2 separate regions of the Homo sapiens genome follow, and region 2 is linked to region 1. Evidence: fine-mapped expression QTL. Tissue or cell type: sun-exposed skin. Region 1 holds a variant in brackets; the other region holds the start of a gene. All regions are shown on one strand. Distances are from middle to middle.

What was found. PIP is the estimated chance that this variant, and not a neighbour inherited with it, causes the effect.
Region 2: it holds the start of SLURP1, and the variant in region 1 is the best candidate, but not a certain one, in a credible set for the expression of SLURP1 in sun-exposed skin (GTEx, PIP 0.71).

Annotation. Positions count from the first base shown.
Region 1 is chr8:142,761,159-142,765,283 of GRCh38, forward strand. It overlaps LYNX1-SLURP2 (LYNX1-SLURP2 readthrough), which reads right to left. Exons shown (of 5, transcript NM_023946.5): 4 at 3,878-3,982; 5 at 3,180-3,583. The coding sequence ends at 3,447. It overlaps SLURP2 (secreted LY6/PLAUR domain containing 2), which reads right to left. Exons shown (of 3, transcript NM_177458.3): 2 at 3,878-3,982; 3 at 3,180-3,583. The coding sequence ends at 3,447. It overlaps SLURP2-AS1 (SLURP2 antisense RNA 1), which reads left to right and starts at 1,907. Exons shown (of 2, transcript XR_007061134.1): 1 at 1,907-2,337. The variant C/T (reference allele first, on the strand shown) is at 2,243.
Region 2 is chr8:142,740,596-142,744,720 of GRCh38, forward strand. SLURP1 (secreted LY6/PLAUR domain containing 1) reads right to left here and starts at 1,811. Exons shown (of 3, transcript NM_020427.3): 1 at 1,733-1,811; 2 at 1,208-1,327; 3 at 354-681. The coding sequence starts at 1,790. The coding sequence ends at 548.

The DNA of each region.
Region 1 (4,125 bases):
CATACAATCCACCCGTTTACAGTGGCTAATTCAGTGGTTTCTCACGCACCATACAATCCACCCGTTTACAGTGGCTAATTCAGTGGTTTCTCACACAGCATACAATCCACCCATTTACAGTGGGTAATTCAGTGGTTTCTCACGCACCATACAATCCACCCGTTTACAGTGGGTAACTCAGTGGTTTTTACCATATTCGCAGTTTTAGCCCATTTTCATCATCTTGAAAAGAAACCTTGAACGCTTCAGCGCTATCTTTGCTCCATTCACTGTGAGAACGTGAAGTGGTTATTTTGTGAGATTGTGAGATGGATATTTTGGTTTTCTGACATTGCTTATTTTGTGAGATTGTGAGATGGATATTTTGGTTTCCTGACATACAGCTCTTAAAACCCTTGGAATCTCTGGAGTGGCAAGGGCATCTTTTGTATGCTAATGAGAGGACTGGTGACTGGGGGTCCCCAGGGAGCTTCAGGATGAGGGACAACGGGATTAGAGAGCTGGGACTTCAGCCCCACCCCCAGCCTTCAGGGGAGGGGAGGGGCTGCAGGTTGGGTTGGTCAGTGGCCAGTAGTTTAATCCATCATGCCTACGTAATGAAGCCTCTGTAAATTTCCCAAAAGGACAGGGCTCAGGGAGCCTCCGAGAGCAGAACATGCGCAGGTGTCTGGGGGTGGCACTGGGAGGGCCTGGAAGCTCTGAGCCCCTCCCTGTGCCTGCCCCACGCGTCTCCCCCACCTGCTGTGCGTCCACACCTTCGTCACAGCCTGTGTCATAAATGGGTAAACGCGGCTCAGTGTGTCCCTGAGTTCTATGAGCCGCTCCAGCAAGTCATCAAACCCGAGGAGGGGGTTGTGGGAACCCTGATTCATGGCAGGTTGGTCAGAAGCACGGGCCACACCTGGGGCTTGCGACTGGCATTGGAAGTGGGGCTCACTGCGTGGCACTGAGCCCTCCACCTGCGGGATCTGACGTGACCGCCACAGGAATGGTGTCGGAATTGAATTGAGGACATCCAGTTGGTGTCCACGGCAGTGTGGCTTGGTTGCTGGTGGAGAGAAATACACACACTTTGGTGATGGGGTGAAGTACTGTATTGTGTGAGAGCAGGAAAAGTACTCTGGCTTTTCCCTATTTCTTTTTGTTTGTTTGTTTGTTTGCTTTTTAAGATGGAGTCTCGCTCCTTTGCCCAGGCTGGAGTGCAGTGGCACCATCTTAGCTCACTGCAACCTCCGCCTCCCTGGTTCAAGTGATTCTCGTGCCTCAGCCTCCCAAGTGGCTGGGATTACGGGCATGCGCCACCACACCTGGCTAATTTTTGTATTTTTAGTAGAAACGGAGTCTCACCATGTTGCTCAGGCTGGTCTCAAACTCCTGACCTCAGGTGATCCACCCTCCTCGGCCTCCCAGTGTGCTGGGAATACAGGCGTGAGCCGCCACACCCGGCCTTTCCGTATTTCTTAATAATCCCTGCCACCACCTAGCAACCACTCATCTCCTTTTCCTCCCTATAGAGCTCCCTATTCCGGCCACTTCTGAGAAATAGAACTGTACACTGCTTGGCCTGTTGTGCGCGGCTTCTGTCTCACTTAGCATCGTGTTTTCAAGCACCCCCCGCGTGTTTTCAAGGCTCTCCCGTGTTTTGGCGTGGGTCGGGGCTTCATTCCTTTATGTGGCTGAATAACATTCTGTGGTGTGGGTCTGTCATCTCTGTGATCCCTCCATCAGTTGATGGGCATTTGGGTTTTTCCCGCCTTTTGTCTGCTATGAATAATGCCACTGTGAATGTTTGTGCACAGGCTTTTGTGTGGACTCGTGTTTACTCTTCTTGGGCCATGCCTGGGCGTGGAATTTGGCCTGGGGGTGGAATTTGGACCAGGTGGGGGGGCGGGGGTGGAATTGCTGTGTTTACAGCAACTCTGTCCAATCCTTTCAGGAACGTGTCTTGCTTTTCTATTCTGAATTATCTAGCATTAAAAAACCTCCTCTTTTTACATCGAAACCTCTCATTCAGTTGGCATGCCTTTGGCTGTAGCGAGAGAGGTGATGATCCAGCCTTATCCTGTTCTCTCCACAGTGCTCCACGGCGGCTGCCAGTGAGCCCTGTCCCTCTCCTGCAGATCTGAGAAGTGCTCCATTGTCACCTCAATTCTTGAGCTTATCTGGGTATCTCCAGCGCACCCTGTTTATGTCTTCTTCTGTGCCCGGGGCTACTCTGAAAGTTGTCCTGCACCTGAGTGTC[C/T]GGCGGCCCTGCCTGAGACACCCCCTCCTTGTGGAGCAGCTTAACAATTGCATCAGCTTTCTCCTGTGCTGATTCTTCATGAGAACGTTGCCAAGGTGAGAACAAGAAAGGCCAAGGAAAGGGCCTGGCGGTGTGTTTCTTGGCAGGTGCTAACTCAGTCGGGGGGATCTGGGTGCTGCAGGTATTGACTCACCTCGGCCTCTCCGAGGGGAGTGCCAGGCTTATGTGGGGGTCTCATTCAACCTTGCAGCCCGAAGCTCGGCCATGACGCAATGTTGCCTAGGGAGTGATCAACTTCCACAAACATCACTTACCTAGTTTCCATGTCCACCCTGAGATGGGTGGCCACAGCTGCCCATCACCTCAGTCTGATTCATCCCACTCCCAGCATCTCTCCCCAGCACCCTGCCTTGTGTGCTGGGTACCCAGTGGCCCAGAGGAGCTGGAGGTGGTGTTCCCTGCCAGAACTGGGGGTTTCCTAGAGAGGGGCAGGCCGGGCCACTGGCCCAGGGGCATGTATGAGGGCGAGGGTGAGGATGCCGCCTCACTCTTCTCCCTATTCCAGAAGGCCTGCTGCAGCCGTCTTTGCCAATGGCACCTCCTCCCTTCCTCCACCCCGCACAGCCTCCATGTCTCAGCCGGGGTGTCCTTTTTCTGAGGTTTCCCAACTCACGCTCTGGGGTGGAGGGCTCCTCATGTGCCCCAGCCCCAACTCCCACTCTAGCTGCTTCAGGAGAAGCAGCTGCCCGGGGTGCCTGGGCCCCCGTGCCCTTCAGGCCTGACAGTTGGCTGGAGGCGGGAGGGCCTGTTCCGTGATAAGGGCAAGTGGGGGTGGGGTAGTAGGGTTTAGCCTGGGGTGAGGGAGCGAGGCACCCCCAAATCTACTCCACTCTACTCCCAAGCCCAGGATGGCAGGACTCCACTCTCACTGCATAGCTTGTACCACACGATCCAATCACATTTTATTGTGGGGAGGTCGGGACCTGAAGGGGCGGCAGGCACGATGGGCCCCAGGCTTGGACGGCAGCAGATTGAGGCAAGACTCCACGCAGGACTTCCCTAGGACAAGCGGTGCTGGACGGTGGCTGCAGAGGCCGGGAGAGGTGGGCTGGCCAGTCTCGAGGGAGGGGCAGCTGTGAGCCCTGGCGCCAGGCTGTGGGGGCTGTGGGGGCTGAGCGTCCGGGGGCCTGGAGGAGGGCAGCCGTCAGTCATGGTTGCAGAGGCTGGTCTGGCAGCAAGCGATGGATACGTAGGGGCCCAGGCCCAGGCTGGGGATATCGGGGCAGCCTATGTGGCACATCTTGGTGACCAGAGGCAAATCCTCGGTGTTGCTGAGGACCCCTGAGTGGGCAGGAGAGAAACCATGGAGCTCCCTGAGGCTCTGGTTTGCCCAGACCCTGCTGCCCCATCTGCCACTGAGCTGAGGGTCAGACGCCCCAGGTACATGAAGCATACGGGCCCTCCTGGGGCAGACGTGGCCCTTTGCTCATACCCTTCCCTGGGCATCACTGGCGGACACTCCCCACTATGCTTCTGACTTACTGGGTGCCTGGATCTGGCTCTGTCACCCTCTGAGCCCACATCTTCCCACCTGGGCAAGAAGGACGTGGCCAGCCCACCACTGTTCCCACTTACGGGTGGCAGTGGTGACACAGTGGGTGGAGTCCCTCAGGCATCTGGATCCATGGGAGCACCCTCCGAAGCCCGTGCACTGGTGACACCATATGGCTTCGGCTGCAGCTGCGGACATGGGGACAGACAGGACACAAACGGATGGGAGGCAGGTGTGGGCCACCTTCTGCAGTGACGGCACGCACTCATCTCCACCCAGCAGCCCATGCTCCTTCTCAGCGGCCAGTGTCCCGACCCTGTGATCCAGCCCT
Region 2 (4,125 bases), 21 kb before region 1:
GAGCCAGATGTATCCACCCTTGGAGGAAAGTGGATGCCAACTCTGAGCTTCCTTCCCTCTCTAGGGTGGGAGCGATGTCTCCAGGGTTTACAGGGGAGATTCTTAGCGGGAGATGTTCCCTGGGCTAGGGTACAGGTCCTGGTCTGAGATGCCAGGCTAGTTTGCATCAGGAAAGGGGCCCAGGAGGCATTTCTTCCCCTAAGTCTCTGTTTTCCTATCTGTGAAATGGGTCACAGAGGCTCTGGGTGAGAGGGAGGAGCAGGTGCCTAGAATGTGCTGTCCTTCAGCCTGGCTCTCCTGAAGGCCAGTTCTGTAGGGTGTCAGTGCCCAGGAAGGACAAAAGTCATGTCCACTCTTGGCTTAGTTATGTTTTATAAGCGTGGGGTATGGAAGGCAGAGGGCGCCCCTGGTGTGCTTCTCTCCCCTCAGACCCCATGAGTGAGCTGTGCCACAGCAGCAGGAAGCAGGGGGAGGTGATCACAGGTGGAGCCAGGCCCCGTCAGAGAGGAGGTGCCTGAGGAGCACCTTCCGCCCTGCCGCCCTGGGTTCAGAGTTCCGAGTTGCAGAGGTCTCGGAAGCAGCAGAAGATCAGGTGGGCGGCCCCGATGCTGTCGGGGTCGGTGGCCACACAGGAGCTGGAGCAGGAGCGGGTCACCACGGGGCTCTGGTTGAAGGGGTACTCTGCAGGGTGGGCCAGTGTCAGAACCCTCACTCCCCTGCAGCGCCTGCCTGCTGCTGCACTGCTCCCAGCCGCCGTCGCCTGACCTCACCCTCCCTGTGATCCCTGTTCCCAATAGTCCACATCTGTGAAGCCACCCAGGGCCCAGCCCTCCTCTGACTGTGACCTGTTCATGAATTATTAGGCCTTGTCAGACCTCTGAAGTGCCTGCGCTGAGATGGGAGCCCGAGCCCAGAGGCTGTGGCAACACCACCCAGTGGGTCTGTGTCAGAGCTGGGGTTTGAGCCCCCCAGGGTACCCCGGCCATTAAGCCCCACCCACCTCCAGCGCCTGGTGCCCCAGGACTGGGTCTCTGAGGGGGCTGTGCCACCCTCGTGGAAGGCACCCCTGCCAAGGTGTGGCAGCCTGTTCTGCCCATCCCACCTGCTGCCTTTTGGGCCGGGAGGAGCACCAGCAAAGGAGGGAGGCACTTGGGGGAGGTGGCCCTGACTCCAGTGCACCCAGGGCTGCCGTGGGGCCTGGCCTCACCTGCCTCCACCGTCACCAGCGTGGTCATGCAGGCTGTGTCCTCTGGCTTGCAGCGGGTAATGGTCCTGCAGGAAGCACTGGTCATGGGCTCCTTGCAGGTGTAGCACTTGAGGGCCTCACCTGGGTGAGGGATGGGGGCAGAACCTCATCACCTGACCTCGGTGGCCTCATCCTGGAACCAGGAGGCAGGGGCTGAAGGAGTCTCGCTGACATCTTTCAAGGCCCCGGGCAGCCCTTCAAGGGGCCTCTCTGGCAGCTTTCTCTAACTGAGCTGAGCCACAGACTTGAATGCTGCATCCCTCCACCAAGCCTCAGTCTCCCTTCCTGCAGAGTGGAGCCGTGACCCCTGTCCCAGGGTGAAGCTGGGCTCTGGGACCCAGGAGGCTCACTGAGAATGAGGAGGGTGAGCCTCATGGAGGCCTAAGGAGGCTCTCAGCCACAAAGCACCCCCAACAGCCCCATCCCCCTAGGAGGTGGGCAGACAAGCTCAGAGGCAGGGTCCCCACCAGCCTGCGGCCCACTCACCACAGCCCATGCTCCAGGCTGCCACGAGCAGCAGCTGCACAGCCCAGCGAGAGGCCATTGCTCCGTGCTCAGAAGTGATGAGAGGTAGCCAGCCTCACATCAAGGATTTATACCCAGGCCCTTGGGCACCGGCTTCTGGGCGGTGGCAGAACCGGCCGTGTGAGTCAGGAACGTGGTAAAGGGCCCAGTGGGGAGGCAGCTGGCAGGAACATGGCAGACGGGCAGGGAGCTGGATCTGGGAGCTCTGTCTGAGGACGATGGCCAGGCCTCTGCTTGCACACCTCCAACACTGGGGAACTCACTGTTCCTCAGCCATGTCCAGTGGTCCTGGGACAGCTCTGACAGAGAAGGCCTTTCCTGCTGAGCTCAGACTGCCCCTCTGATGAGCCCCCATGTCCTGGCTGTGCCTCTGGGGTTCACATAGGCCACCCAGCCCCAGCCTGGGGGACCCTTAAGACCCAGGTTCAGTGTAGCCTCTGCCCTTGTTGCTCTAGCCCCGCCTGGCACCCCTTCCCTGCAGCCTGGCCTGCAGCCCTCTCCACAGACCTCTACCTGGTCTGTGTACACCTGATACACACCTGCAAAGTAGAAACCAGAGGTAGGAAGCAGGTGTCAGGTGAGGGTAGCATGGGCCAGCTAGACCACTCTCAGGCTGACAAGGTTGGGCCCAGGAGTGGCCCCTCATCACTGCCAGCCCCTTCCCACTAATGGCCTTTAGACCAAACCTGAGTTTCTTGATTTTAGGCGCCTGACAATAAGGTTCTGCTCACCCTCCAGCCTCCTGGCCTGACTGTGTTGTCTGCTCTTTACTGCGTGCCCCCCACGACACCCTGTTCCACACGCATGCCTGCCTATGCCATACCGCTCAATGACCACATTGCCTGGTCTCCCATCTGATGTCCCACATCTTCCCCATGCTGTGAGACCCACTAAGGTGCCCCTCTCCACAGTCCTTCCAGGTATACCAGCCTCTCTGGTTTCTCTGTCCTGTGATGTCCCAATGGGTGGTTGTATAGATGGATGAGTTGATGGATGGATGGATGGGGGATGGATGAATGGGGGATGAATAGGCGATGGATAGGGGATGGATGGATAGATGGGTGGGGGATGGATGGGTAAATGAATGGGAGATGGATGGGTGGATGCATGAGTGGATGGGTGGATGGATGGGTAGATGGATTAGTGGGGGATGAATATGGGATGGATGGATGGATGGTAAGAGATGGATAGGAAATGGGTGAAGGATGTATGGGTGGATAAGTTGGGGATGAATGGAGGATGGGTGGGGGATGGATGCATAGATGGATGGATAGGTGGATGGATGGATGGATGGGTGGATGGATGGGTAGATGGATGAGTGGGGGATGAATATGGGATGGATGGGGGATGGATGGTTGGATGGATGGGGGATGGATGGGAAATGGGTGGAGGATGGATGGGTGGATGGGTGGGGGATGAATGGAGGATGGGTTGGGGATGGTTGGGTGGATGGATGGATGGGTGGATGGATGGGTAGCTGATGAGTGGGGGATGAATATGGGATGGATGGGTGGATGGTGGGAGATGGATGGGAAATGGGTGGAGGATGTATGGGTGGATGGGTCAGGGATGAATGAAGGATGGGTGGGGGATGGATGGATAGATGGATGGATGGGTGGATGGATGGGTGGATGGATGAGTGGGGGATGAATATGGAATGGATGAGGGATGGATGGGGAATGGGTGGAGGATGTATGGGTGGATGGGTGGGGGATGAGTGGAGGATGAGTGGGGGATGGATAGATGGCTGGATGGGTAGATGGATAGATGGATGGATGGGTGGATGGATGGGGGATGGATAGGAAATGGGTGGAGGATGTATGGGTGGATGGGTAGGGGATGAATAGAGGATGGGTGGGGGATGGATGGATAGATGGATGGATGGATAGATGGATGGATGGGTAGATGGATGAGTGGGGGATGAATATGGAATGGATGGGGGATGGATTGGATGGATGGATGGGGGATGAATGGGAAATGGGTGAAGGATATATGGGTGGATGGGTGGGGGATGAGTGGAGGATGGGTGGATGGATGGGTGGATGGATGAGTGGGGGATGAATATGGGATGGATAGATGGATGGATGGGTGGATAGATGGGGGATGGATGGGAAATGGGTGGAGGATGTATGGGTGGATGGGTGGGGGATGAGTGGAGGATGAGTGTGGGATGGATAGGTGGCTGGATGGGTAGATGGATAGATGGATGGATGGGTGGATGGATGGATGGGTGGATGGATGGGTAGATGGATAAGTGGAGGATGAATATGGGATGGATGGGGGATGGATGGGGAATGGGTGGAGGATGTATGGGTGGACGGGTGGGGGATGAGTGGAGGATGGGTGGGGGATGG